Regions from separate parts of the Homo sapiens genome. Here regions 2, 3, 4 and 5 are each linked to region 1. Evidence: fine-mapped expression QTL. A gene starts in region 1. Each other region holds a variant in brackets. All regions are shown on one strand. Distances are between the middles of the regions. Region 1 holds the start of OSBPL10 (oxysterol binding protein like 10). Region 2 overlaps OSBPL10 (oxysterol binding protein like 10). Region 3 overlaps OSBPL10 (oxysterol binding protein like 10). Region 4 overlaps OSBPL10 (oxysterol binding protein like 10). Region 5 overlaps OSBPL10 (oxysterol binding protein like 10).

Region 1 (6,225 bases):
AAAAAACCCCTTAGGCTCTGAATTTTCAGGGAGATTGATTTGAGTAATAATACACTCCTGTGCTCCAGCTTGGCTGGCCCTACAATTGTTAAACTCTTCCTCTATTGCAAAAACCTGCATTGGCTTTTCCGGGTAACAAGCAAGATGAAACTGTTGGGCATTACAGTATGTATTTCAAATACTTTTTGCCAACTTATTATGTATTTTCCAAATTGTTTTTCAAACATAAAGACTTTTTCCTCTCCAAACATAATTCTGCAGGTACCTTTTCCCTATTTGCTATACTACGGTAGGTCAAGGAAAGCTTTCTGGAAGAAGTGACTTGTAATCCATAACTCCATGGGTGAGAAACACAAACCGGGTGAAGAGAGCAGGGAACAGTGTCACCAGCAGGAGGAACAGCATGTGCTTCATCACTCTTTCATGATATAGCCTCTACTTTCAGCACATCTGCTCCACTCACCTCTTGGACATTTTTGATCCCATACGGCTGGCTTGCTCCTGCCCCATCCTGGCCTTGACTATTCCTTTTAGCTTAGTTCCTTCCCCACTTGAACTGGTCTATCTCAAGGGTCTAATTTTTTAGTCCAAGGTGAGAATTTGTTGTGCTAGCTCATTCAGTCTTAGGTTGGCTGCATAAGGTGGAGTAATGGTGGCATAGGTTAGGTAATATGAAATAAAATGACACTTCTCCTCTTTTAGCAGGAGCTTAAGGTGGCAGTCTCCAATAAAAGGCATGTTGTTTTGGTACATAATGCTGACATTTATAGTCCAGTATGCACCTACCTTCCCACCTTCAGTCTGTATGTCAATGCAGGACTCAATGAACACTCATATATGATCAGTAAGTTAGCTTAGGCAAAGCTATGCTGTGGTAAAAAATAATGCTAAAATCTCAATGGCTTCAAACAAACATTTTGTGCATGTTACATGGCCAACACTAACTGGCTTAGGATCTGCTGTATTCCACACCTTCTCACTCCAGGACACAAGCTTAAGGAGAGTCCTTATCCGGGACATGCTGCTCTCCTGGGATAAGGAAAAGAGAAAGATGGTGGAACCATATGACTGCTCTTAAAGCTTATGTTTGGAAGGGGCATTCATTACTTCTGTTCACATTCCATTGCTCAAAGCAATTCCATGGCCAAGCCTAAGGTCCATGTGGAGGAAGGATACTCTTTCCATAGGAAGCGGCAGTAAATATTTTGAACAAATGAACATTCTTGCATAGTTTATTACAGCCGGTATCATTTGTCCCATTTTGCAGTGAGAAAACTAAGGCTAAAAGAGGTAATTTGATCAAGGTCATAGGTTAGAATTCAGCTCTGAATGGCTTCAAATTTGGTCCAGGCAAGCTCTTTTCAGATTTTTTTTTTTTTAACACTATGTAGGCACCTGGAATTGTAATTTACTCAGGGGCACAACCACTTCTCTTCAACTCCAGAAGCTTCTCCGTGCATCTCTAGAGCTAAACCACCCATGAAATCTTCCTGGAAGGATGTGAAGCTAGAAAGGGGTTGGGCTCGGGGAACTGTCCCTTTGAGAGCTGACTTTTCCATTTAGTAATTTTTTTTAACTCTTGAAGTATTTATCTGCTTGATGGGTTTGTAGATCCTTTGGACGGAGATCACCTATCATCTATCACCTTTTGTTTTGTCTGTGTGTGTGTGAGAGAGAGAGTCTGAGTTCCTCAAAGCTTTTTTCTAGGTAATTTTTGATACTTCAGATTACAATGGATATCTATATTCACAAAAAATATTAGTGGGATAGAAAGAGTATCTTTAGGTAGGAAGAGGGGCGCAGAAGTTACAGCCAACACAGAGAATCCTTCAATGTTTGTAAATATCTGTTAATTTCCCTTGCCTCTGGAGCAGTTTTCCCGGTTTCAGAGCCTCTGCTCCTAGGTGCACGTGCAGTGTGGTAGCAATGGATAGGTTTTGACTTGCCAGGTTTATGCGTGCCATTCAGGGCAGGGGATTAGGGTTAGGCCAGTGAGTGACCTAGGACACTCAATTTAAGGAAGCACTCGCACAAACCTGAGAGTTCGCGCGCCTCACCCCAGCCCAGCCGTGTGTCTGTTAAGCATTTATCATAATCCTGCTGCATGAAAATGCCCGGCGAGCTTACCTGTGAGGATCACCTGCCACTCCCCTCCTCCGCCAGACAACGCGGAGGGCCTCCCTGAGCTGTGACTTTGCTCCGCCGGTGATAATTTCCAGGTTACTGTGTAGGAGCGTCTGGCGCAGCATCGTGTGCGGAAGACCGAGAGAGGGAGTGTGCGTGTGAGCCTGTCAGGCCGGGCGGGTCCATATCCGGGTGGACCGGGTGGGTGGGGCTGCCCCTCCCTCCAGGTCCCGAGGTGGATAAGGGGTGGGGAGTGACGTGCAGAGATTCCCTTTCGCCCCTTCGGATCCAAGAGAGGGTGGCAGAAGGAATGCGTGGGTGACTTGGCGTGGATTTAGGGCGTGCCCACCCTGCAGATCGGCCTCCTAGAGTGTCCCGAGGGCCTGAGAGGCCGCAGGGACACGAAGGAAGAGAAGGAGGAACCCGAAGAGGGCTCGCCTAGCCGGCCACCCGCTCCGAACTTGCCCGGGAAACTAGTGCGGAGGGAGGGGCCGGGCCCTGGCCGCGGCGGGAGGAGGGGCGGCCGCAGCTGCATCCAGCCCCGTTGGCTTCCTTCCCAGCTCTCCTTCGCCTCCTCCTCCTCTTCCTCCTGTATGAGTCAGGCATTTCCCGGGGATTTGGAGCAGGCACGCGCGGCCCGGGCGTCCGGAGCTGTAGCAGCAGCAGCAGCCGCCGTGCCGGGGCCGCCACCGCGGCGGGCACCCGCGTCCCGGGCGCCCACGGACCATGGAGAGGGCAGTCCAGGGCACAGACGGCGGCGGGGGTAGCAACAGCAGCAGCCGCAGCAGCAGCCGTGCTACCTCGGCGGGCTCCTCGCCCTCCTGCTCTCTGGCGGGCCGGGGGGTCTCCAGCCGGTCGGCGGCGGCCGGGCTCGGCGGCGGGGGAAGCCGCAGCAGCCCGGGCTCTGTGGCCGCTAGCCCGTCCGGGGGAGGCGGCCGCAGGAGGGAGCCGGCGCTCGAGGGCGTGCTCAGCAAATACACCAACCTCCTCCAGGGCTGGCAGAACAGGTAACGCGCCAGCCGCCCGCGCCACCGCGCGCCGCTGTGTGTGTGTGTGTGTGTGTGCGTGCGTGTGTGTATGTGTGTCTGTGTATGTGTGTGCGCGCGCGATTGTGCCTTCAGCGAACCCAGTGATGCCTCCCAACGGTGCCCTTCCTGCGTCCCTGCTCCCCTCCAGGTGGGGTTCTCAGGATGGGGCGCGCCGTGGCTCCACCCCGGGACCGCACCGCAGTGGCGGGGAGGGAGGCGAGAGCCCTGGTTTTCTTCTATGCTGGCACCTGCAGAGACTGGAGTGGTGGCAGGAGGATCGTGCTGGTCCCCGTGCTCTGCTTGTCCGCGGTTTCCCGCACGCCTGAAGAATGACTGGGAAAGGGAGGCAGAAGGGGCGTGCTTTGTGCCGGGGTGAAAAAGCGTTAGCACGTCCGCTCCGATTACAGTAATTCTCTAAGTAACAGTTCATTTTAAAGTTTGGTGTTTCAGAACACCACCACCATCAACAAAAAACCTGCCACTTGTCATCCTGGGCGACTGTGCATACTCCTGCCCCAGTTTGTGCCTTGCAGCCTCCGATGTTTGTAATGGAAGTTTTGTTTAAAAACAGAAAGAGGCCGGGCGCGGTGGCTCACCTCTGTAATCCCAGTACTTTGGGAGGCCGAGGCGGGCAGATCACGAAGTCAGGAGTTCGAGACCAGCCTCGCCAACATGGTGAAAACCCGTCTCTACTAAAAACAAAAAAAATTAGCCGGGCGTGGCGGCGCGCCTGTAATTCCAGCTACTCCGGAGGCTGAGGCAGGAGAATCGCTTGAACCCCGGAGGCAGAGGTTGCAGTGAGCCGAGATCGCGCCATTGCAATCTAGCCGGGGCGACAGTGCGAGACTCCGACTCAAAAAAAATAAATAAATAAAATAAAATAAAATAAAATAATAAAAAGAAAGAAAAAATACCCTCCCCCTTTTAATATTAGTAGCAATTTACATTATTATCATTATTTCCTCTTCAGGTCCCATTTGAAGTTTCCTGCTCACTTCCCCCTTGCAGTTGAGAAGCCTAGTTATGGACACGTGGAAGGATGGGGCTGTCGAGGAAAGGGGCTCAGGAGGCACTTGGAATGGTGGTAGTGTGTGTGATCTGCCATCGTGAGGAAGACAAGAACAGATGTGGCACTACTGTTTACTTTTTGTTTTTGTTTTTTTTTTCAATTTGTTTTCCAAAAACAAGCCAGAGGGAAATACAAGTGTCAGTGCGAGGAGAACAATGCTTTTTGGAGAGGTGGTTGGTGGGATATTTTGTCCTGCCTATTTAACAGTCTCCAGATCTTAATAGACTTGGGGCTCTTAAGGATGTTTGTGAGATTTGAATTATACCCTGGAAAGTTGCTTATCTCTGCTGCATGGACTATATTACTTGGTTATCTCTTCCTGTAGATTGTTTGGAAATGTTCAGATTTGCTTCCATCTGAAACATATCAGCCAGTTATCTGCACGAAACTCAACTTGGAGGAAGAGGTCTTTTGAAGTATGGAAACTGAGTTGTTTCTATATTGATATTCTACATATAGGACTTTCTGAGTCACCTGGGCTTCCTGGGAGATGTGTTACTATGTTAGTGGAAGTTGCACTTAACTTTTGAATCCTTTTATTTCTCAAAATAGTCCTAGTGTCTGCTGTTGCCTCTCCCTTCCCCTTTCAATTCGTGAAAGCTGAAAAAGAATAGGTAGAATGCGTAGGTAGAGGGAGATATGAGATGACTAAATCTGATTTCAGTTCTTGGTAATTATGTCTCGTTAATGGCAACTCAAGGTGCCTTGTCAGTAACAGCATTTTGTTGGTGTGTTGAGCAATCACTTAATGCTTTTTCTTCAAGTAGATTATGAGGCCAGCAAAGCTTTTACCCTGGATTACAGTTATTTTATTATTTACTTGCTGGGGAACAATATTTTACCTTGCAGTCTGTATTAAAGGATTTGTTATTTGGAGTGGATTTAGGAGGCATTGGAGTAACATTCTTTTGCATTATTTTAAACCCATTGTGGTGTTTAGATTGGAGGCAAGGTTGAGAAGAAGCACATTTAATGCCAATAATAATACCTACGTGATAGCAGGCTACCTAGGTGAAATGTGGTATTAAGTACACTCCTGAGCATGCTTAAGTGATGTCTCATCTTTATTGAGTTTGTTTACTGCAATTTATAGCTGTCTGCCTATGTTTGTTCTTACCACAGTAGACTCACCGTTTTCCAAGTCTACCACTGACTCCATAAGCATCGTCTGTAATTGTTAACATCTCAGTGTCAGGGTTTCTATTTCCCACATTTTGTTCTTTGAACGATGGCTGAGGGTCCATTAGTGGTTTGGAGAAGATTACGATGACTCTGTGCTTGCAAAATTCTCCCTTCTCTAGGGGTCTTATGAAGGGACAGATGGATTAGTGAAAAGGAAGAGAGAAGAGGATAAAAATAGAAACTTTGAAAATGTATTCATTTGTTCAATTATCTATTCACAGACTGTTTTATTGAGCACCTACTATGTGGCAGGAACTGTTCTAGGAGCTGGAGCTACCACCCTTCCCTGGTCCAGGGAAATGCCTTAGTACAAATAGTTAGCCAACTGATTCCTGCTGCCTTTCTTTCTGGGCCTCATAGCATCTTCCTTTGGCAGTTCTTTTCAAAGTGCCCACAGTTAATGACAAATCTATAGCAACCAAGTTCTTGGTTCATCCTCTCAGGCTGCTGTGCAATTGTAGTGCTCTTCACCAGCTCCCAGGACTTAATACCAATCACCCACTAACAGTTTGTACCCTGGTGTCCTCTTGCATGTTCTCAAGTTGCTGTAAAACTTATATTTTAACACTTGGCATCATATTCTGCCTTTATTTGTAGCCTCATCCTCATGCCCTTAGGAAGGCAGTTTGGGCCAGAACACAAAATAAACGACATAAAGAGAGGTCACAGAGAAGAACACTGTATGATGGGAACGTGCTCAACTCAGGAGAGTAAGTTCAGGACATTTGGCTCACACTCACTGGATGAGAATGTGAAATACTTAGAGTATGGGGAAAACATGCATTAAGGGCTTTCTGTCATTCATTATTATAGATATTTAAA
Region 2 (5,848 bases), 21 kb after region 1:
AATTGCCACAAAAGTGAAGTCTTTTGATTGAAAGCAAGTCATTGTATTGCAAGATCCAGGAGATCAGGCATTAGACCTAAGTTCTGGCACAGTGCCTGGCGCATAGTAGGTACTCAATATTTGTTTAGTGAATGCTATCAAAGCAGCAGTGATTTTGGCATTGGCTTTTCCCATTTGTGCATTTACCTTGCACCCAAGTGATTTGGATTTGCTCCCCTAGACAAGACTTTATGTGCTCCTGTGGTCTTTGTGAAAACAGCCAAATGGAAAAGTTTTGTCTCAGGGAGCTTGCGTTACAACTTAGTGTAATGGGAGCGATTGAAACCCTAACTGTACATTTCTTGCGGGTAAAAGCCCCCTGGAATCAGGCAGAGTATTTATGGCACTTCTCCTGTGCTGGTTCCCATTTAAAGATGGTGAAATCTCAAAAAAAAAAATAGTGTTTCATTACTTTTATAATATGTAGAACATATAGTTTACCATTTTAACCATTTGTAAGTGTACAGTTTGGTGGCATAAGTATATTCATACTGTTGTGAAACCAATACCACTTTTCATGTCCGGTACTTTTTTATCATCCCAAATTGAAACTATACCCATGAAATAACTTTATTGTTGTTATTTGCTTAGAAAATCATTTATTCAACAGAATTATAGTTGTTATCTGTGTTAATAGTAGGCTACAGGACCTCGAATCCAAAATTGGTGATGCCGGCCAGGCGCGGTGGCTCCCACCTGTAATCCCAGCATTTTGGGAGGCCAAGGTGGGCAGATCACCTGAGGTCAGGAGTTCAAGACCAGCCTGGCCAACGTGATGAAACCCCATCTCTACTAAAAATACAAAAAAATTAGCTGGGCGTGGTGGTGGGCATCTGTAATCCCAGCTACCCAGGAGGCTGAGGCAGGTGAATTGCTTGAGCCTAGGAGGCAGAGGTTGCAGTGAGCTGAGATCACACCACTGCACTCCAGCCTGGGCGACAGAGCGAGACTCCGTCTCAAAAAATAAAAATAAAAAAAAGCAACCCTCCCCTCTGCCAAAAAAAACTCTTAAAAAAAAAAAAACCAAAACAAAACTGGTGATGCCAAAATTAGAGAACTTATTTAAATGTAATTAATAGCAATTATCTTGAAAGGGAACCTTTAGAAATATAACAGGAACATCTGCTGGTGTACATTAATTAATTTCTGTAAAGATTATAATTATACACTAGAATATATGCCATTTAAAATGAAATTTAATACTCAGGAGGCTGAGATGGGAGGATGGCTTGAGCCCAGGAGTTCAAGGCTGCAGTGAGCTATGATTGCACCACTGCACTCCAGCCTAGGAAATAGAGTGAGACCCTGTCTCTAAAAAATAAATAAATAAAATACAAATGTCAAAAGACACCAATAATTAGCCCAGCCCCCTCCCAGCATTATTAGCATTATTAACATTATTAACACACACACTCTCTAAATAGAGCAGTTTTAGGCTCCCAGCAAAATTGGAAATATAGAGTTCCCATGTCTCCCCTACTCCAACACATGCACAGCCTTTTTAATGATACTTTACATTTTAAAAATAGTATCTGTCTACTAAAATAAAATCAGAGACGCTAGCTTTCCGAGCCCTGGGAGCTCACTTTTCTCCTGAAGCCTTCCCTGGCTTCCTGGGCACTGCAGATCCCTCAAATTTAGGTTCTACCACCACATTCTTGTTTGGTGACTCGTGATCTAGCCTCACCCACAAGGACAGTACAGGGCTCGTGTTTGCTTAGGTGGTGCTCCATATTTGATTGTTGAGCCAAAGAGTGGGTTTGGAGAGCTTCAGAACTTGATTTGTTATAGAATAGCTTCATTCTTTATGGAGTGGGTTGCACATGAAGAATATTTGATGTAGAATGGCTCTGGCAAGTTAAAAAAAAAAAAAAAAAAAAAAAGGCTGTAGCTTCTTGGTTAAACATTGACAGAAGGAGGTCCCTTGGGGAATTTGTGAGCTGCTAGGTGGTTTACACCATTTTTTGGGCAGCTTTGAGGTTCAAGCAGTTTGGTTTTAACCCTTTGTAGGTCAGGTTTTTAGACCTTGTAATCTATTTTCCCTTTTAAAGGAGGAATAAGGATTAAAGAGGATAAAGAGGATGGTTTTTCTGTAAGAGAGAGTGCTGGTAATTCTCTCCTGGTGGTGAGCATTTGTAGGGTGGGGTAGGGGCACAGATGGCACATGGCTGATGGCCTTGAGGGAGAAGTGGGTTGCACAGTCTCTTGCAACAGTTTCCAGAGTGGGGAAGGTTCAGAGATGCTCTTCTGGTTTCTGAGCTTGTGAAGAGAGAGACGTAGAGGAGAAAGGGTTAACTTCCATTTTTACTTGGAAATGGATAGTTTAAGCTGGGGAGGGCCTGTGTTATGTAAACTAGCTTGCAACCTTCTGGTGTCCATTTTAGCCTTGCTTTCTCATTTAGGTCAATTGGATCTGAATAAGGAATTTGGCCAGACAACAAAATATTTAAACTGGTTCCCCTATTGCATCTCATTTCCACAGTCTGTTTATAATCCTAATTGATGCAAATGCCCTTGTTATTGTGAATGTGAATACCCTGAATGCAGGGTTCTGGTTTGTTTCATTTCACATTGTATTACTGAACGTGGTGAGGGAAGCTGAGGGTCTGAGTGACAAGCGGAGTGTGGCTGGATCCAGCCTTATTTTGAAGGATTCCTTTGGCACCCAGGGGCCCAGGGATGAGGTGCTGTTTTGGGAGGCTGGTAAAAGTTCAGAAGCGATCTCTGAGACTCCCTATCTGCCAGATTCCCAGACTGTGAGCTGCTTCAAGATCAGGGAAGTTTTTCGGTACGTAATTTCTTAAGCACTCAGCAAAGTGCTAAGATAGTCTTCCCTGCCTCAGGGAGTTTGGAAGGACATTTTTCCATGGAGTACATCAGACCTAAGAGGGAGAGTTTTGTTTTTCTTCACTGATAGGCAACTTTCATTTTCTGCATTTGAGAGAACCTGATTTTAAGTAGCACAGTGGCCACGTCACAATCCAGGAATAATTTTGGCATTTTTCCTGTATCCTTTTTCTGCAAGTGTTTTTCACAATAAACCAAAATAACCTAGTCAAGGGGAGAGGGAGGCTAACATTTTCTTTCATGGAGCATTATTCTGAGGCTTGAAGGTGCTCAGGTGAACTTGCCCAAGTTCTGTTTTACAGGTGAGGAAACTGCCTCAAATAGATGACATTTAATTCAAAGTTACACACGGAGTTTGTCGCTGAGTTAGAACAAGAAACA[G/A]AATATGCTTCTCAGTCAGTTTTGGAAAAACTCCAGAAAGGTGATGCTAAAAATGGTCTTTTTGCCTTGTGTTTTGTTATATAGCAAAGAATACCCGCTGGCTTCTCATTATCTAGCTGATGCCCTGAGACTCATCTGATGTTCTGGCTTATGTATTAGCTGCTTTGAGTGATGGCGAAAACTTCAAAATGTGCAGAGAGCTCTTCCTTGAACCCAGTGATCCTGGGGTATTAACAGATTGTGTTTGGGATATCTTATCTCTGAGTCTCATGCTAATTTCCTCTGATATATAGCAAAAAGACTGGGTTTAACAGTAGTTTTCAGTAGACAAAGTTGCTTTTATTTTATTTTCCAGGTTATGAATACAGAACTGGCCTTTAGGACTGCTTCTGATCTATCAGTAGATAGTACACTGTTTATAGTGCTGCAAAAAGAGAAGGTGGACTTGTAAATTCAGGAAGGGACCTGGCTAAATTTGATTAGACTGCATTAAAAATTTGAGACTTTTCTCTGTGAGCCGATATCTCGTAGCATTTCTTTAGGACAGAGCACTCTTTAATTGAGAGTTGTTCTTGCCTGGACCTTGGCTTGTTGGCAAATGCAGCATGTGTGATTCCATTGCGTGCGTCTCCACTCTTGAACTGCTACTTTGGATCACAATTACTGGAAGTGTCTTCTAGGGCCCTGACCCTTTAGAGATGACATTTGACCTTTGGGAGTCTCTTCCATGGTGCATTAATGAGTTTCCCATGTGCTGGAGTGCTTACTCTTTGGTTTAGTACAGGGGTTAGAAAGGTTTTTTTGTAAAGAGTCAGATAGTAAATAATTCAACTCTGCCATGGCAGCATAAAAGCAGCCCTAGGCAATATGTAAACAAATAGACATGGCTCTGTTCCAATAAAACCTTATTTGCTAAAATAAGTGGTGGGCTGGATTTGGCTCAAAGGCCTGTTCTCTAGTTTAGAGGCTTTTGGAACACAAAGCCGAAACACCCTTGGCTCTTGTGTGAGAGAGAGAAGAATCCAGTATTCAGAACATAAACATCTCAGTTGAAATGTAGCATCCATGGTGAGAAAGATGCTTTGTGTTATTGAAAAGTTGACATAACAAATATAAAGACTTTTTTTGGGAAAAAAATGGGCCCTTGTCCTCCCATCCTAATACAACTGTTACTGATTTTTGTGCATTTCTTTTGAGTCTTGTCCTCCTGCATATGTACCTCTGTGAAGTCCTGATGTGCGCAATACCAGTTGATATTATTAAAAAGCATAACACACCATATATCTGACAGTTGTTACTACATTGGATCTAGTGAGGCCTAAAACATACAAACTAGATTTGTCAGAGAAGATATTTTTAAGGACTAATTTGTGAGGTGTACTGTCATTTTGTGCATTTTTAACTTTTTTCAATTGCAAGAGTAATACTTCACTCATTATTTACTTCAGCCCTAAATATTAGTAGAAATCAGGCCAGAGCTAAAGTAAATCAGGTAATTGGCTATTCAGGGGCTGAAAGATGTTTAGTGGCAAAGTCACGCTTTAGCTCTAAGTTAACATTGTGGTCACAAGGGTATTCTGGTGGCCCGAGAGTTACTGCACCCCTCCTTGCAAATGGCTACAAAGGCTAAGACATAGCACACGTTTAATTTTTTTCTTCCTTCTTAGCTGGTGCACACACAATAAACCAAGAAACAAATGACCATACTTCAGTGTCACTCTATACAATGTGACTTTAAAGATGCATTTTTAAAAACAGGAATCTGGCCGGGTGCGGTGGCTCACGCCTGTAATCCTAGCACTTTGGGAGGCTGAGGTGGGCAGATCACGAGGTCAGGGGTTTAAGATCAGCCTGGCCAACATGGTGAAACCCCCCCTCTACTAAAAATACAAAAATTAGTCAGGCGTGGTGGCATGTGCCTGTAATCCCAGCTATTTAGGAGGCTGAGGCAGGAGAATTGCTTGAACCCCGGAGACGGAGGTTGCAGTGAGCCGAGATTGCACCACTGCACTCCAGCCAGGGCGACAGAGCAAGACTCCTCAAAAAACAAACAAACCAAAACAAACAAACAAAAACAAACCAATAACAACAAAAAACCCCAGGAATCTCCAAGTACATATCTCCACGAATGGCAAGGTTCTTTTTCACAACAGTGCTGCCATTGCTCAAAATATTTCAAGGCTCCTTTTCTGGAATTGCCTTCAGAATAAGTTATAAGCCACAGTAGAGTAGAGGTCTGCCTGCTTCATAGTCTTTTCTCATTTTTGACTAAAAATGGTGTTCGCCAGTGCAGTTCCCTTGCCTCAGCTGCCACTGTGGCTCTGGGTTGCTTTCAGCTGTTTCCAGATCTCATAACTGTGCTCAGGGGAGATGGATTTATCGTAACTGAGTCAAAGGTTGTGGGTAATGACAATAAGTCAGGAGTCTCTGTGGTTATTTCTTTGGAAAGAACAAAAATATTTATGTGTCAGTTGTGATAGTTAAAAAAACAAAAAGTTCTGCCTTTGTACATCCCTGGATCACCATGCCAACATGATTTTATTTATTTTTATTTATTTTTTATTTTTTGAGACAGGGCCTC
Region 3 (6,225 bases), 29 kb after region 1:
CTTATCTATAAAATGATGATATGCCTACCTTGCAGGGAAGTTGTGATGGTAAGACCAGATGGCATATGAGTGTCTAGCATATACCTCTGGTGTATAGTAGTGGTTCAACAAATTATTACTGTATTACTGTTATCTTCAATTTTGTCATCTTTCCTTTTTTCTTTTGTCTGAGCAGCTCACGCTGCATTAAACCCCAGTGGATGCCTGGATGCCAGTAGCTTCTATGATTTTTTCTTAGCAATTAGCTTACCTTATCCACCCATCTACCTTCTATGTGGCTAACTGCCCCCTCCCTCATTTTATTATGAAAAATTTCAAATATACAGAAATGTTGAAAGAATTGTACAGTAAACACACAAGTATCTACCACCTGGATTCTACAACTGACATTTTATTATACCTAGTTTTTTACATGTCTGTCCATCTGTCTCATCCATAGATCCATTTTATTTCTTTATACATTTCAGAGCAAACTGCTGACATTAGTATAGTCATAAATATTTTAGCATGCATGTCATTAACACATATCATTAACAATATTTGTTTTCAATTATTTCTCTTGATGTAAAATTTCACAATGAAATGCACAAATCCTAAGTGTACATTGCTAAGTTTTGACAACTGCATGCATTTTTACCCAACCTCTGTCAAGGCATAGAACATTACCATCTCCCCAGAAGCTTCTGTTGTGTCTCTTGCTCCTCCCCACTCCAGGCAACCACCATCCTTCCCCCTGCCCCCAATATAGATTGGTTTTTGCCTACTCTAGCATTTCATATAAATGGAATCACACAATATATACTTACTGTGTCTGGCTTCCTCTAGTCAGCATAACATTTTGGGATTCATTTATGTCGTTGTGTCTTATCAGTCGTGGATTCCTTTTTATTGCTGAGACGGCTAGCTTTAAAATTATGCCTGATTGCTGCAAGTAGAAAGAACCAGAAGCCCTCCTCATGGAACTTGGGATTGTTGCTTCTTTTTCCTTTCCAGCCTAGTGTTAGCAATGCACAAAGGCTCTTTGTAGAGGATTAGAGTTGAGGGGCTTAGAGGCCATTTAATTCAGTACCTCCTCCAGGCCTGTGGCATCTTGGCCAGGCAGCCATCTTTCTGACCCCTTTTTCTTCCCTCTTGGGACTGGTGTTAATGGGAATTCATGTGCAGAAGGAGCAAATGGGCCAATGCACGGGCACCTCACACATTTAATTGTTCTAGGGTTAAAGGATGAACCCAGACTTCTCTTAATGATTTTTGTTGTTGAGGATTTTGACATGCTTTGTGCATGCTAGAAATTATAGGACCAGTCAGCTGCAACAACTGGAGCTGGAAACAAGTTCCTATTTAGCTTTGATGTTAAGGAATCAACCACAGCACTGAAGCTGCTGAACTCTCTGATGGAAAAAGGCGTCATTCTGTTGCCTCTTGCCCCAGTTCCTTCTCTCCTCCTCTTTCATTTCTCTGTCTCTGTCTCTCTGTCACACACACTCCTCACATACACATAGAGCTTTTGAACATCTTCACGTATGGTGACTTGTCTGAAAGTTTAGCTGTCTCTTTTTTGAAGAAAATTGACATGATTGAGAGGGAGAAGGAAAAGGGTTAATGAAGAATGGCCATTGTGGCCAGGTGTGGTGGCTCACACTTGTCATTCCAGCACTTTGGGAGACTGAGGCTGGCAGATTGCTTGAGCCCAGGAGCTTGAGATCAGCCTGGGAAACATGGTAAAACCGTCTTTACAAAAAATACAAAAATTAGCCAGGTGTGGTGGCATGCATCTGTAGTCCCAGTTACTTAGGAGGCTGAGGTGGGAGGATTGCTTGAGCCCAGGAGGCTGAGGCTGCAGTGAGCTGTGATCAAGCCACTGCACTCCAGTCTAGACCCTGTCCTCAACAGCAACAACAACAACAACAGAATCACTTCTGCTTGGTAAGGGGGAAGCAGTGCCCACTCTTTGTGTGTGTGGGGGTATTAAATAATATAATGTGTGGCAACTGAGTGTTGGACACAGCAAGGCTCTGCAGATGTTATTTCCTGCCTTGCTTCTGTCCCGTGGAGAGGTTCTGAAACCTTTCTGCATATTAAAAGTATCTGAGGACCGGGCGCGCTGGCTCACGCCTGTAATCTCAGCACTTTGGGAGGTTGAGGTGGATGGATCACGAGGTCAGGAGTTCAAGACCAGCCTGGCCAAGATGGTGAGACCCCCGTCTCTACTAAAAATACAAAAAAATTAGCCAGGCATGGTGGTGGGCGCCTGTAATCCCAGCTACTCAGGAGGCTGAGGCGGAGCATTGCTTGAACCCTGGAGGCGGAGGTTGCAGTGAGCCGAGATTGCACCATTGCACTCCAGCCTGGGCTACAGAATGAGACTCCGTCTCAAAAAAAAAAAAAAAAAAAAAGTAGGAAGATTTTACAAAAATTTCATCACCAGATCCCATCCTGGACCAGTTGAACCAGAATATAGGACCCTTCCCCGACAGCCACAGTTTAAAGTCACTGATTAGTACCTGAGAGAATCATCTTCACACATATTATCACCACTAATTCTAATAACCACACAAGGCGGGCAGGTTTTAGTAATATTTAATATTTAGTAATATCAGAGCCAACTGATGTTGGGGGGACATTCTAACACAGGTCAGTCTGATTCCAAGTGCCACATCCTTCCTACTATTCTGTGTTCCCTCTGATCCTTTCGTGTGAATGGATTTTACATAGTAGTATGATCATCCCTTCATTCAGTTGTTGATTCCTTCTCATTGCTCCCCATGCTGTGCCTGAAGGTACAGTGGGGACTATTGTAGATGGGTTCCTGCCCCAAGTTGCTGGTGGGCTAGGAAGAAGATGCACAGCAGTGGTTGAACTGCAGCATGCAAAGTGCTCTCACGGAGC[G/C]TGACGAGGGATACGCCTGGATGTAGGGTGGGGAACTCTTTTGGAGGAAGTGCCACCTGGTTAAGATCTAGGGTGAGAGAGGAAACATGACTCTTGAAGGGAAGTGAAAGAAGCTCAGAAGGTGAAAACAAGAAAAGAACCTGGACAAACAGATGAATTTATCACTTGAATAGTTTTGCCTCACTGAAGAAAACATATTTCTTAATCCACCTAATGTGTACTAAGGCATGGCTTTCCACTTTGCACCAGGATTCTTTATTTGCATTTGCAAAATAAAACAAAATGCTTTATCGTAGGTTTTCTATAAATTCCAAATTTCATTGAATTTAAGAGTCTTTTGTTTAATATGACTATATGTTAACATGTAAATAAGTTTGTCTTTAGAGCTAACAAATCCTAATAAACAATACTCATTTCCCACCACTCATGGAAGGCACAGATTATAGTAGGAGTTCTGTAAGAGTTGCACACTAATGGAGTTTTAGGCAGGGATTCTTGAATCTTGTGAATTATATCTAATTTTTTTCTTCGCTGGTGGAAATCTTAAGAGTATAGCACGGTGTTAAAGCATGGGTTTTAAAGTTAATGAAAAGCTTAGTTTGTCACTTTCACTTAACTGGATGTGTAAAGTTATCCTACCTTTTTAACTCTCAGTTTCTTCATCAGTAAAATGGGAATAATAATAAATACTCCATATAATTTAAATATATAATTATATAGTTTAAATTAACATTTATATATTAGTTTCTATTTTTATAATTGTATACAATCATAGAATAAATGATCTAAATAGCTTTTTTCTAATATTTGAAAAATATAATTGATTTATATTAAAGAATATATGCAATCATATATGTAACAGAGCATAAGAAAATGAACAGGCATGAGCTCACCATTCACTCTAGGAAGGATAATATAACCACTAGTAGCTCATCTGCCCAAGTATTCTTCTTCAACTCAATCCTTTCCTCCCCTCTTTTAGGTAACCACTAACTCTTGAGTTTCAAGTTCATCATTCCTTCACCTTTGTATAATATAAAGTATTTTTATAATAGATATTTTACAAAAATAATGTGTGTTATCTCTCTGTATTATTTAGTTTTGTTTCTCAGTTTTATATTTTTAAAAGGATGTTGTATATAGTTTTCTGCAAGTCTTTTTTTTTTCCCGTTTTGTTTCCAAAATTGATTCCCGTTATTGTGTCTAACTTCAGTGCATTTCTTTTCAATGCTGTATAACATTCTTTGTGTGACTATGTCACAAATTTTTTATCCTGGTGATGGGTATTTAGGTTGTTCACCATTTCTTCCTCTGTGAACGGTGTTACTGCTGTGTGTAAGTTAGTATGTATCTCCCAGTACACACACGCAAGAATTTCCTTGTGATGTTGATGTAGAAGTTGAATTGTTGGTGTGTTAGTCCGTTTTGCATTGCTATAAAGGAATATCTGAGACTGGGTAATTTATAAAGAAAAGAGGTTTATTTGGCTCATGGTTGTGAAGACTGTACAGGCATGGCACCAGCATCTTGGCTTCTGGTGAGGCTTCAGGGAACTTTTACTCAAGATGGAAAGTGGAGGGAGCAGGCATGTCACATGGCGAGAGGGAGCAAGAGAGAGAGGAGGAGATGCTAGGCTCCTTTAAACAACCAGCTCTAACAGAGCTAACTGGTAAACTAACAGAACTAACAGAGTGAGAACTCACTTATTACCATAGGGAGGGCACCAAGCCATTTGTGAGGGATCTGCCCCCATGACCCAAGTGCCTCCCCTTAGGCTCCACCTCCAACATTGGGGATCACATTTCAGCCTGAGATTTGGAGAGGTCAGATATCCAAACTATATCCACTGGGCTTCAGGGTATTTGGATGTTCCATTTTATAAGATGATGTTAAGTTGTTTTCTAAAGTGGATGTGCCAGTTTAATGCCATCCAGTAGGGTATAAGCATTTGCATTGTTCTGCACCTTTTCTAGTTTTTGATATAGTAAGAATTCTTAATTTTGCCAAGCCAGTAGGTATACATGATATCTCATTGGTATCTTAATTTGTGTATCTCTGATTATCAGAAAGACAGCAGCTCTTCATGTGCTTAAGGGTCATTCTTTCTTCCTCTTTTATGAAATTCCAGCTTGGGTCTTTTGCTCAGTTATTTATTAGGTTGTCTTTTTTGCATTGGTTTGTAGGAGTGCTTTATATATTCTGCATACTTATCCTTTGTTGGATCTATGTTGCAAATATCTCCTTTTAGTTCATAGCTTGGCTTTTTACTTTATTTGTGATGCTTTTGAAAAACAAGTTCTTACTTCTTTTCCATATTCTCTTAATTATGCTGCCCACTGCTCAGTTTACTGGCAGAAACAGTCATCCCTCCTGACAGGCCCTTTTCGGATACCCTGGAAGCTAATACAAGCCTACATAAGTAGGATTTCCACCGAGACCTACTTTAAAAAATTTTTGCCAACTCTCAGATTGCTACTTCAACCCACTGCATAACTGACAACTAAAATTTTTCATTGAGAGCAGCTTCTAGCTCTGATCCAAACCAAGTCAGTCCATAGGTGGGACCTCAGGTCAGGAGGTTCTTAATGTGGTAGAATATGAGTATTTTCTTTTCTAGTTAACTAAAGAGATATTCTCTTATATTTTCTGCTGAAAGTTTCAGAAGTTACCTCTCTCAATTAAGGCTTTAATCTGTCTGGACTTGTGTCTGTTCTGTGAGGTAGGAACCCAGTATCCTTTTTTTTTTTTTTTTTTTTTTTTTTTTTTTTTGAGACAGAGTCTTGCTCTGTTGCCCAGGCTGGAGTGCAGTGAGGTGATCTCAGCTCACTGCAAGCTCCACCTCCCGGGTTCACGTGATTCTCCTGCCTCAGCCTCCCAAGTAGCTGGGACTACAGGTGCCTGCCACCAAGCCCAGCTAATTTTTTGTATTTTTAGTAGAGACCGAGTTTCACCGTGTTAGCCAGGATGGTCTTGATCTCCTGACCTCGTGATCTGCCCGCCTCAGCCTCCCAAAGTGCTGGGATTACAGGCGTGAGCCACCGTGCCCAGCCGGAACCCAGTATCCTTTTATATTTCTTGTACTGCACAATTGTTCCATGAGAATGGAGAAGGATGTATGCATCCAACTACTTGCACAGTTTTAGGCACATGGAAGGTACTCTGAAAAGGTTAGCTGTTGCTATTTTAACTTGTCTCCTGTTTTTTCAGTTGATTGGTTCAATCCTTCCTGAAATAATATGTGTGTGCGTTTTAGGAATGACAATTGAGGCAGATTTGCATTGGGCTAAGAAACCAACCTAAAACTCCTCTTTCCCCAACTTCCCCTTAGTATTGTTA
Region 4 (6,225 bases), 36 kb after region 1:
AGTCTGGGTTGTAAAATTATACTCCATGCTCAAGGCTTTTCAGAGGTGCTCAACCACCTTGTACAGATGAGTTTTTTAACTTCCTGGATGGTTTCCAGAGAGATGGAAAGATGAAAAGACTCATAATGATGAATGGCCCTTCCCTCTTTCCCTGCATGTATATTGTTCTGCTGGACTTCTAGAATGGACTCTGTCCATTGTGGATGTTGCTGGTGCCCTGCACAGATCCCCTTTACTGGGTCAGGGCACCCAGCCCTTGACTAATTGAGGGAGTTAGCTGCTAATACTTCATGCCTGTACCTTTCACTGGAAGATTCTGCCCTGCAGGGGAGGAACCCTCTAGCCTGGAGGTGACTGGGAGGTAACCTGCATCCTCCACTCTGGTGTGACCTTGTACCCAGTGACTGACATCACTTAGTGAAGTCAACGATTGGGAGTATCAAACCCAATCCCCTGCTTCCTGGCAGCACAAACTTTGTACAGTTTACTTCAGAGCTTTTTGTGGGATCAGACGGAGGCTGGGCTTATCTCAACTCCTATGCAGTTTCCCTCACCTTCTTCCAGTTTCTCCGGATCCTGAGAGCACTTCCTCAAGCACTCATTTGCATAGGAGTCGCCACATCAGGCTCTGCCTCCAGGGAATATGACCTAACACAGATTCTTTATCTATTTTTCTCCTCCAGCCTGTCATACTGTGCTCAGCGTGTGGAGTGTTTCCACAGGAGTCTTCCGTGATCTGTTAGGTTCTTTTGAGGGCTTGTTTCATGTGTTGGTCATCTTTAGACTTCCACCAAACCTCCCAACCCCATGCCCTGCCTGAGTACCTTCTCAGTGCTGTCGCAGGAATTGTGGAGTAGGGGAAGGTGGCATATGCAGAGGCCAAGAGGAGCTGGTAGGGGACTTCTGATGTTGGTGTAAGATCTGCCATTGGTAATTTGGACACTCGCTATAGGCAGGCAGAGGACAAAGCATGCTTCCGCCTTTGTGAGGAGGATAGCATTCCAATTTTTCAGCCTTAGTGATGCTGTGGGAACTGCTGTTCAGCTGAGTTGGGTGGAGGAATTGGCACCTCCAGCTTTGGTGATGTGCTGTGTGCTTAGGGACAGCCTGGGCCGAGGGTTGACCTTGTTCGTGCCTAGATCCAGAGCTGCTACACTTCTGCAGATGGGATCCTGGTCTCTATGTCTCCCCTACTCACCCTTACCTTCCAGTAACTGCTCCCCATCCTTTATTTTTTGTGTTGGCCCAGTGTTTCTGATGTCCACTGAGTTGTCAGAGCCTGAAATTTAGTGAATCATTCTGATTACTGCTGTGTCTCGTTCTCTAGTATCTAACCAGCCACTGAGGCATAGCTGCCTTTCTGGTCTGCTCCCTCCTGCCTTTGTCTCTTCTGATAACTGCTCGTCTCATTTGTCAGTATCTAACAGCCACTGAGCCGTAGCTGCCTCTCTGGTCTGCTCCTCCTGCCCTTGTCTTTGTTTCGATGCTCCTTGCATCTGGTCTGGACTCCCACGATCATCTTCTTAAGGCCTCCCTGAGCCCAAGCTCCTCTTCTTCTAGGCACCTCAACACCATCTCCATGGTAACTTTTCTAAAGCATGCAACACTAAAAACTCTTGGGTGACTTCCTGTGACCTCCAAAGGAAGTCTCAGCTCTGCTAGAATGGGACCAAAGCCCAGCTCCACCTTGAACTTGTGTCATAGCCTTGCTTCTTGTTCCCTCTCCTTAGCCGGGCAGATGCCTTGTCCTTTGATAAAGGCTTCCTGTCACCTCCTGAGGGCTCTTGTGCTTTTCGCAGGTGGATGCCATTACCTTTACCGCTGTGCCTCCCGCAATTGCTCTGTTCACACGCTGTCCGCCATCTGCCTGCAAGGGCCCAGGCAGGGTCTTACTCATCATTATGTCATTGCTTCAATAGAAGCCTAATATTTTGTACATAGTAGTCAGGAAGGAAACGACTTAAAAAATTCTTAATTTTTCTTAATACAAGGGTTTTTTTTTTTTTTGATAAAAAACAACTTAATAAAATTCTTAATTTTTCTTAAATTCTTAATTGATTTCTAATTTTTTTGTTATTATTGAAAAAGTAAAAAACTTGAGTTCCCCCTTTTCATTAAAAAACTTAGTAGTGGCTGGGTGCAGTGGCTCACGCCTATAATTTTAGCACTTGGGGAGGCTGAGGGGGGTGGATCACCTGAGATCAGGGGTTCGAGACCAGCTGGCCAACGTGGTGAAACCCTGTCTCTACTAAAAATACAAAAATTAGCCGGGCATGGTGGCACGTGCCTGTAATCCCAGCTACTCAGGAGGCTGAGGCAGGAGAATCACTTGAACCTGGGAGGCGGAGGTTGCAGTAAGCCGAGATCATGCCATTGCACTCCAGCCTGGGCAACAAGAGTGAAACCCATCTCAGAAAAAAAAAAGCATAAACCAAAACTTAGTAGTGTCTGTTGATTCAGGCAATCCCTAATGGCAAGAGGTTCTCTGAATTGAGTAATGCCTTAAGTAGTTTGGATTTTTTTAGTCATAATAGGATCTGCAGATGTTTGGCCAGTAACCCTATTTGTATGCATGATACGTTATTCGTACCAGACCAGGGGTCACAGGCTCAAATATTCTCCAGGTCTCAGGCTGTGTCACAGAAACAAGGGTGTCAGAAAAGCAGTATAAACCCCTCTGGTCAAGGGCTGCTGACCTCTGCTTTGGCATCCTGAGC[G/A]TCTGGAGAAGGTGGGAGCATGGAGACCTGAGAGTGCATCACATCTGACAGGGCAGCTGCTTCTCAGCTATGGCCTATGGTTGCCGTGTAGTGAATGGACCCCATGTTGAGATCCTTGGATATTGCAAGAGAAACTAGAGATGTAGATTTGTGTGAGAAGCTGTCTTAATTTTTAAAGATTGTCAACTGATTCAAAACAATTTTTAAAGCCAAAAATAAAAACAATGAACAAACCAAAGCCTGATTCTGGTCAAAGCAAGTGGGCTTGAGGGCTGGATCGTATGTCACTGACTGACTTTTGTTTTGAGGCTTCCGGTCCAGATAGTGTCCCTAGAGCATATTTGTGGTGACTTTGGGAGCCCCATGTCACTGGTGTTGACTTTGGGGACTGTAACTTTGGACCAGAGTCCTAGTGGCAGGAATTTGACGCCTTGTTTGCTGATGAGGGAGGGAATTTTAGGTAATTTTCTCCTCCCAAAATGACCCTGGCACCCCTTTTGTTAGCATGGCTTGTTCCTTCCTGTTTTTTTTTTTTTTTTTTTTTGAGACGGAGTCTTGCTCTGTCGCCAGGCTCGAGTGTAGTGGTGCAATCTTGGTTCACTGCAACCTCTGCCTCCCAGGTTCAAGTGATTCTCCTGCCGTGGCCTCCCGAGTAGCTGGGACTACACATGTGTGCCACCACGCCCAGCTAATTTTTGTATTTTTAGTAGAGACGGGGTTTCACTATGTTGGCCAGGATGGTCTCAATCTCTTGACCTCAGGATCTGCCCGCCTCAGCCTCCCAAAATGTTGGGATTACAGGCATAAGCCACTGTGCCTGGCCTTTTTTTTTTTTTTTTTTTTTTTTTTTTTTTTTTTTTAAAGAGAGGGGGTCTTGCTCTGTTGCCCAGTTTGGAATGTAGTGGTGCAATCATAGCTCACTGCAACCTTAACTCCTGTACCCACTCTTTTCATGTGAAGCAACCAGATTGGCTGATGGATGTGCTGGGAAGAAGGTGTCTCCAAGGAGATGAGTCAGTGCCACAGCACTGTATTATAGGCATTATGTATTATAGGCATTAGAGTTGTCCTTAGTCTATTCAGGCTTGTATAAAAAGGACAAAGGGAAAATTTAGGGATGGGGACAGCTATCAGGAAGGTGGTGGTTTTACATAAATCTTTCTCTCCACATGTCCATATGTAAATATATCCATGCTTTAGCAGGCCTGTTAGTTTAAAATATGGATTGCCATTTGAAAACTTGACATTTTCCTAGATGTCTTGAACCTTAGTTCATCTAGCCTGGCCACATCATTTAATAGAAAAGATAATTGCTAACACATGGTTTACCAGTTTGGAAGCTGTTCTTTTATATTTTATGATTATATAATTAATTTATTTTTACATTTAAAAAAGCTGCTTATTTTTGCTGGTAGAAATATAGATTGGTATGACTTTTATGGAAGACAAATAGGTAATCTTTATCAACAGCCTTAGCAATGGTTATATTGTTTGATGCAGTGATTCTACTTGTTGTAAGATATGCTAAAATAGTAATCAAAGAAGTGCAGAAGAAATAATTCATGAAAATGTTCATTGCTGTGTTATTTATGACCACAGAAAATATGCAACAGCCTAAATTGGGGAATAGTTAATAAAGTTATGCTTTATCTATCTGATGAAATATTATTCATATATTAAGTGTTGTTTCTAAAGAACTTTTTTTTTTTTTTTTTTTTTTTTTTTTGAGACGGAGTCTTCCTCTGTTGCCCAGGATGGAGTGCTGTGGTGCAGTCTCAGCTCACTCGAACCTCCGCTTCCTGGGTTCAAGTGATTCTGCTGCTTCAGCCTCCTGAGTAGCTGGGACTACAGGTGCGTGCCACCATGCCTGGCTAGTTTTTTTGTATTTTTAGTAGAGACGGGGTTTCACCCTATTGGCCAGGCTGGTCTCGAACTCCTGACCTCGTGATCCACCTGTCTTGGCCTCCCAAAGTGCTGGGATTACAGGCATGAGCCACTGTGCCCGGCCTCTGAAGAACATTTAATGACAGTGGAGTTAATGCTCTTGATACAATGATAAGTGGAAATAACCCAGTTTTAGTTAAAATATCCATGTATGTCTGTCTCTGTGTATGTGTATAACTAGACAGTAAGATTTTAAGGGAATATTCTGAAATATTAACAGCGACTTTCTCTGGGTGGTGTAATTATTTTCCAGATTTCCTACAATGAACATGTGTTGCTTTTTAATCAGGAAAAAAGTCCAAGTTTTTTTTAAAACTATTGAATGTACTTGATTAAAAAAAATACTGTGTATTATATGACCTAGCAATTCTACTCCTAGGTATATACCCAAAATAATTGAAAGCAGTGACTCAAATAGATACTTGTATGGCAAGGTTCATTGTAGCATTATTCACAAGATTCAAAAATGGAAACAACCCAAGTGTGCATCAGTAGATGAATGGACAAACAAAATGTGGTTTATATGCACAATGGAATATTATTTAGTCATGAAAAGGAATGTAGCTCTGATACATGTGGCAACATGGAGGAACCTTGAAAACATTATGCTAAGAAGTCAAATAAGCCAGTTACAAAAGGACAAATATTGTATGCTTCCCATTGTATGAAATATCAATACTAGCCAGATTCATAGAGGAAGAAAGTAGACTAGAAGATACCAAGGGCTGAGGAAAGATTGGAATGGGGAGTTATTGATTGATAGTTACAGAATTTCTCTCTGGGGTGATGAAAAAGGTTTGGAAATAGATAGTAGTGATGGTTGCATAACAATTGTGAATACAACTAATGTCACTGAATTGTACACCTAAACATGACTAAATGGCAAATTTTGTTATGTGTATGTTATGATTTAAAAAATTTGACATAATTTTTTTTGTCAAAACTGTGTTAGCTAATTGTGTGTTTGCTATTTTACATATGGTGTTTACTTTCAATGACAGTGGCTATCACTTTTTGGTTCATTTATCTCAATTTTTGCTTTTCACTTTTACCCCTACAGACATGCCTGTGCTTTAAATGGGTTTGTTGTTTTGAAGGTTTCAGATGCCAGGCTCAGATGCTGACAATGGAGCCAGGCAGGTAATGAGGCATCTGGGAGGATTTAAAAAAAATGTATAAGAGGAAATGTGTCACTTTTTTTTTTTTTTTTTTTTTGAGATGGAGTCTCACCCTGTCGCCCAGGCTGGAGTGCAATGATGCGATCTTGGCTCACTGCAACTTCCAACTCCTGGGTTCAAAGGATTCTCCTCTCTCAGCCTCTTGTAGCTGGGATTACAGGTGCCCGCCACCCAGCTAATTTTTGTATTTTTAGTAGAGACAGGGTTTCACCATGTTGACCAGGCTGGTCTCAAACTCCTGATCCGCCCGCCTTGGCCTCCCAAAGTGCCGGGATTACAGACGTGAGCCACTGCGCTCAGCCCGCTTTTTATATTGAGCCATACATTGCATTCTTGTGGCGCCATCTCGGCTCACTGCAAGCTCCGCCTCCCAGGTTCACGCCATT
Region 5 (6,225 bases), 89 kb after region 1:
GAGATCAAGACCATCCTGGCTAACATGGTGAAACCCCCATCTCTACTAAAAATACAAAAAAAAAAATTAGCCGGGCGTGGTGACGGGTGCCTGTAATCCCAGCTACTCGGGAGGCTGAGGTAGGAGAATGGCGTCAACCCGGGAGACAGCTAGCAGTGAACCGAGATCACACCACTGCACTCCAGCCTGGGCGACAGAGTGAGACTCCGTCTAAAAAAAAAAAAAAAAAAGGCCGCAGAGAATTCTAATATGCAGCATTTATGTTCTGTCACATAAAAGCAGTTTGGAGGTAGCTTTTCCGGGTTGGTTTGGGGATTCCACAGAAATCAGAGACCCATGCTCCTTCCAGCTTTCTGCTTCACCATCCCTAGAGTGTGGCATGGAATTTCAGCCATTGCATTCATCTTCTAAAAAGCAAGTGGAGGAGGGAGGGAAGGTAATACGACAGCATTTTTCCTCATTAGTTAGAACTTAGTCAATTGATCACATCTAAGTGAAAGGAAGGCTGGGAAAGATATTCCGGCATAGCATGTTGTGTCCGACTAAAAACTAGCGTTCTCTTGAGAGAGAAGGGAAATAGGTATTTAGTGGGTAGTAGTCTGTCTCTGCCACACCTGGTTTCAGACCGCTAATCAATCAGTGGCAGAGCTGAAATTCAGATCCTGGCTTCAACCCAATAATGTTTCCACTCCTCCCAGTAAAAATGGAATGAGGATGTTGGAAAATAGCTGGTGGATTTAGGCAATACGTGTTTGGAAGAGAAGTTCTTTTCCTTTCTCTTGGGCTTGCTGCATCAACAACAACAAAACAAAAACGGATTTGCTTGACAATAAATTAGGGCCATGGGAATCCATGAATCTAGAAATAAACAGATGAGTGTATGGTCACAAATAGGATGTTTCAGTTCTTACTGACACTTTGTCAGCATTTGACATGGTCACTCTGTCCTTTCTGTGCTTCTGGTTTTCCTCTCTGCCTTGTTTTCTCTGTTCTTTTCCCTGTTTAATGTTAGAATTCCTCAAGTCTTGGTCCCAGGCCCGTTCCTTCCTGCCTCCCCTTGTCCTCCTTGTTCCTCTTTCTGGGCAATCTCATCTATGCCTGTGGCCTCAATTTCTACTTATTTGCAGATGATTTGCAAATTCACATCTCCAACTCCGACCGCTCCTGGGCTCCAGATTCATCCATCCAACGGCTAAGTGACATTTCTTGGAGTAAGGTATTTCAAATGCAGCATTCCCAAAACTGAATTCCTGCCTCATCAAATCTTGTCAACTGAAACTCTGCCATCACCACCTTGGTCTAGGCTATTGCCAGGATCACTGTAGATATCACTTGTATTAAGGTATAATTTAAACATTATAAAATTCACTCATTGTAAGTATACAATTGAGTTACTTTTAGTAAATTTATATAGTTTTGTAACTATCACCACAATTCAGTTTGAGAATATTTCTAACACCAACATTTTTTTAAAAAAATAAAATAATCCCTGTAAGCAGTTTGCAGCTAATCCTGCTCCCACCCTTAGCCCCAGACAACCACTTATCTTTTTGTCTCTCTGTTTCCCTTTGCTGGACGTTTTATATAAATAGAATGATACAATTTGTAGTGTTTTTCATCTGGCTCCTTTAGCATAATGTTTTTGAGGTTCATCCATGTTGTACTTTTATTGCTGAATAGTATGCCATGGGATGGATATGCCACATTTTCTTTATCCATTCACCAGTTAACATTTAAATTATTTCCAGTTTCTGGCTACTATGAATAATACTGCTTTAACATTCGCATGTAAGTCTTTGGTGTAGACATTTGTTTTAATTTCTGTTTAGTAGATTCTTAGGAGTGAAACTGATGTGTTGTAGGTTAAGTTTATTTTCACAAGCAGATGTTCTATTTCACATTCCTACCAAGAGTGTGGAAAGGTTCCAGTTTCTCCATATCCTTACCATTTGTCATTGTCTTTTTAATTATAGCTGTTCTAGTGGGTGTGAACTGGAATCTCATTGTGGTTTTAATTTGCATTTTTCTAAAGACTAATCATGTGCATCTTTTCATGTATTTATTAACCATTCATGTATCTTCTTTGGTGAAATGTCTTCTTTGGTGAAATGAAATATTTTGCATTTCTTGAATGGGTTGCTTCTCTTAGTTTTGAGGTGTAAGGGTTCTTTGTATATTTTGCATGTATATACTTGGTATTTAGTCAAAGATTGGCCAGAGATTGTGCTTTAGCCAGAAAGGCTTTGACTCTGCCCCTCTATCTGCTTGTTAGGAGGGAGCACATTAACATTTCAGGCTGTTTCCGTGTCCTTCCTGGCTCTTACTTTTTATCGCTCTTCCCTGTGCCTGAGCATAGGCTCTGTTGACCAAGGATGTATGGGTGCCGTGGGCCTGCTCTGGTCTCTGCTGCAGTTGTGCTCAACCACCGGTTAACAGATACATGAAAAGTTTAGCCCCATGGTTTTCTCACCTCCTGAAATTCCCAATTAAATCCCTGGCTAGTCTGCTGGTCCGTGGCTTGCTCCAAACTGGGCAGCAACCTCAGGCCAGTGGAGCCCCTGGTCTTCCCACTGCATCTGCCTGCAATTGCCACTTTACCTGATGATGATCCGAATCATGTGAGCAATTGCCCTCACCCTCGCCCTCTCCCTCTCCCTCAGGCAGCAGAACCCTGCTGCCCCAGTCGAACTACCGGTCAGCATTGCTAGGAGGAGGCTGGGGACAGCCCAGGCATGATCCCCAAGCTCTGCTTGTTCTTATCAAAGTTTGGTCAGTTTCTACTGTTCTGAAATGGTTGCTTTTGACAGTTTTGTCCAGTTTTATAGTTGACTTTTTTGGGGAGAGAATGTGTTAGTCTCCCCAGTCGTCACGTTGAGAGAAAGCGAGTCTCTGCAGCCGCCTTTCTGCTCCCTCTGCTCCCACCTGGCTTCTTTCCTGGCCTTTCCCTACTTTGGAGCTAGAATTCTCTTTCTACAAAGTAGTTCTGGTTCTGT[C/T]CCTGCCGCTGGTTGATGTTAGGATAAAGTCCCGCCACGCCTTGTAGGCGCAGCATGGTTTGCATTGCCTACGTCTTTAGCCCCATCTGATAACACACATTCTTTCCTTCTCTTTGCTCCAAACACACTGGTTTTTCTCCATTCCCTCTCCCCACTCCGTCCTCAGGGCCATACACGTGCTCCTTCCTCTGCTTGGAACTCTCTCCTCTCCTCTTCCCCGAGTCCATTTCTTCACACCTCAGATCTCAGTTCCTCCGTCTCCAGACAGGCCCTAGTAAGTCAAATTCTACTAATTGACTCACTTCTATTACAACACACAATCACAGCCAGAGTTTGGCACTCATTTTAGTGAATATTTTATTCTCTGCTTCCCTCCCCCGTTAGAATAGGGGCTTTGTCACCCATACCACATGTATCCTTAGCACAATACCTGGCTCATAGCAGATAGTAAAAATTTTTCCGAAAACAAATGAGTGAATTCTTACAAATAAAACTTAGTTTGGGGACTTGGAGCTACCCTCTTCAAAACATTGTTGAGCTTTTATATGGATTCTCTTCTCTTTAACCATTACCTGAATAAACTTATCCAGAGTGCTTTATTCATATCACAGAACCTATGTACAGTTGACCACACTGACAGCTGAGTGTGAGCCCCTGCCAAATAATATTTCCGTGGCACTGGCACCCCCCAAAAATGGCAAACACAAGCTCTCAAGTTCTGTCTTGTTGGCATTGTAGTAAACTGCTGATACAATGCAATATGAGCATCAGCATCAGATCTGATTTACTGTCTGCATTTAGGAATGTGATATGAACATTTGGAAATTCTTGTTTTATAAGCAGGCAGACCTTTGGGCACAGAGACGGTGGGATGGACTGCAAGAGCGAATTAGCCAGCTTTTTGTTTTTGCAAATGTGGAAATCAAGTCTTAGAGTGGATAAAGAACTTGCCCGAGGTCACAAAAATGAAAACAAGTGGTTCCCAAAGTGTGGTCCTACCAGCAGCATCAGCATCACCTGGGAACTTGTTAGAAATCAAATTCTCCTGCTCCACCCAGACCTCCTGAATCATAAGCTCTGGGGGAGGGGCCCAGGAAGCTGTGTTTTAACCAACTTCCAGGTGATTCTGATGTGGGCAAAGTCTGAAAACCCCTGGCCTAGGGCATAATTAGGTCTCTGACTGCCGAATCACACTACCTTCCTCTATGCTTTGTTGCCCCTAGAGAAAAAGTAAAGGACACTTTGAATTCAGGGACGGTGGAATTTAGAGACTTAGTTGATGTTTAGGGAAAAAGCTGAGCCATGGGGCTTGTTGATGATTGGGTTTGCTTCTCCTGGCCTCCACAGGACAGCTCCCATCTCTCTTGCTCTTGGTGGGTACTAAACTGGGGTTGCTCACCCACTTTTACCCCAGGGCTTTAGCTAGTATCAGAATTTTTTCAGCGTGACTTTCAGGATGGGTGTGTTATAGTACAAAGCAGAGACGTGAATCAGGACTTAGCTCATTTCCAGGTAAGTTCCAACATCGTCAGTATCAAGAATAAGATATAATTTGTGAGCATTAAGACGCAGATTGGTATCGAAATTTTCACCTAAAGACACCAGAAACTCAAGAGTTAATAGTTCAGAGGGAAATGAGGCAATATTGTGAAAGCCTATATTAATTCTCATAAGACAGGTCTCAGTTCTTTCGGGCTTAAATCAACTAGTCTTTAAAAGCAGATCGAGTCTCATCATAGATCAAATCCAAGCTCAGTGCATCAAATCTTGAGTTAAAAGTTCACTTTGACTTATTCTGGTGCTTTATGAGGTCTCCAAAGCAGCAGCCTCTCAGGCTGGTGGCTCTTAATCTTGAGGTGCTTCACTCAGCCTGGCCCCTGGAGCCCCTCTGCTCAAGTGAGCACCTTCATAATGCCAGGTGATGATCCCATTATGCAGGAACTCGATGCCAGGTGATTTCAAACAATGTCTTTAAACCTTTCTCAAAAACACTTCCAGAGTGACAAAACCAAGAAATCCACTGTCTGGGCTGCTGTGATTTAGGAAAGCTGGGGTTTGGCTGTTTTTGACTAAGACAAAATGAGGTTGGCTAATGCTTAAATAACATTCATCTTGGTTATATGGGTGTGTGGGTGCTCAGGTGTTTGAATGAATGATTGAGAGAAATGCTTGGCATACCAGATGGAAAACAGGGTGATGAATAACGGAAGGTTTTATTTTGACTCTGATTTTGCACTGTTTTTTGTACTTGAGGGTGCTTCTGAATCACTTGGAAAACTTCTTGAAATTCACATTTCCGACTTCCTGACCTTCACAAAGATCCTCTAGGTGTAGGTTGAGAGTCAGAATCCACATTTTCAACAAGCTTTTCAACTGATTGAGAAGCAGAGAGCAACTGGACCAAACTTTAAGAAACATTATTTTTATTAAGTTTTAAATTGACACATAATTGTACATATTTATGGGCTACATAGTGATGTTTTGAGACATACAACATACCATGATCATATCAGGGTAATTAGCATATCCATCATCTCAAACATTTATCATTTCTTTGTGCTGGGAACATGCAATATCCTCCTCCGAGCTATTTGAAGCTATATATTATTCATTAGCATCATTGTATTGTGCTATAGAATGCTAGAAATCCTCCCGTCTAGCTATAAGTTTGTATCCTTTAACAAATCTCCTTCTATCCCTCCCTTCCCCCAACCCTTCCCAGCCCCTAGTATCCTCTATTCTACTTTTTATTTCTAGGAGGTCAATTTTTTTTTTTTAAGTTTCCATACATGAGTGAGAGAATATGTGGTGGTTAAATTTCTGTTCCTTGCTTATTTCACTTAACATAGTGTCCTTCAGTTCCATCTGTGTTGCTGAGAATGACAGGGTTTCATTCTTTTTTAAGGCTGAATAATGTTTCATTGTGTATATAGACCACATTTTCTTTATCCGTTCATCTGTTGTTGGACACCCAGCTTGATTCCACATCTTGGCTATTGTGAATAGTGCTGCACTAAACGTGGGGGTGCAGATGTCTCTTCAATACACTGATTTCCTTTCCTTTGCATAAATCCCAGTAGTGGATTGCTGGATCATATGGTAGCTGTACCTGTAGTTCTTTGAAGAGTATTCATACTGTTTTCCATAATTGCTATACTGGTTTACGTTCCCACCAATAGTGTATAAGAGTTCCCTTTTCTTTGTATCTTCACCAGCATTTGTTATTTTTTGT

The links.
Region 2: its variant is fine-mapped to the expression of OSBPL10 in cerebellum (GTEx, PIP above 0.99).
Region 3: its variant is fine-mapped to the expression of OSBPL10 in whole blood (TOPMed, PIP above 0.99).
Region 4: its variant is fine-mapped to the expression of OSBPL10 in whole blood (TOPMed, PIP above 0.99). The same link has a PIP of 0.9 or more in blood mononuclear cells.
Region 5: its variant is fine-mapped to the expression of OSBPL10 in unexposed skin (GTEx, PIP 0.96).

What each region holds. Positions count from the first base shown.
Region 1 is chr3:31,977,805-31,984,029 of GRCh38, reverse strand. OSBPL10 (oxysterol binding protein like 10) reads left to right here and starts at 2,768. Exons shown (of 12, transcript NM_017784.5): 1 at 2,768-3,131. The coding sequence starts at 2,851. It overlaps ZNF860 (zinc finger protein 860), which reads right to left and starts at 2,280. Exons shown (of 2, transcript NM_001137674.3): 1 at 2,128-2,280. RefSeq lists a silencer at 3,009-3,078 and an enhancer at 4,633-4,682.
Region 2 is chr3:31,957,122-31,962,969 of GRCh38, reverse strand. The region is part of intron 1 of OSBPL10 (oxysterol binding protein like 10); the gene reads left to right. Among named protein-coding and RNA genes, the nearest start is that of OSBPL10, 21 kb to the left of the region's middle. The variant G/A (reference allele first, on the strand shown) is at 3,268.
Region 3 is chr3:31,949,101-31,955,325 of GRCh38, reverse strand. The region is part of intron 1 of OSBPL10 (oxysterol binding protein like 10); the gene reads left to right. Among named protein-coding and RNA genes, the nearest start is that of OSBPL10, 29 kb to the left of the region's middle. RefSeq lists an enhancer at 2,767-2,816. The variant G/C (reference allele first, on the strand shown) is at 2,890.
Region 4 is chr3:31,942,186-31,948,410 of GRCh38, reverse strand. The region is part of intron 1 of OSBPL10 (oxysterol binding protein like 10); the gene reads left to right. Among named protein-coding and RNA genes, the nearest start is that of OSBPL10, 36 kb to the left of the region's middle. RefSeq lists enhancers at 881-1,482, 1,483-2,085. The variant G/A (reference allele first, on the strand shown) is at 2,718.
Region 5 is chr3:31,889,140-31,895,364 of GRCh38, reverse strand. The region is part of intron 1 of OSBPL10 (oxysterol binding protein like 10); the gene reads left to right. Among named protein-coding and RNA genes, the nearest start is that of OSBPL10, 89 kb to the left of the region's middle. The variant C/T (reference allele first, on the strand shown) is at 2,994.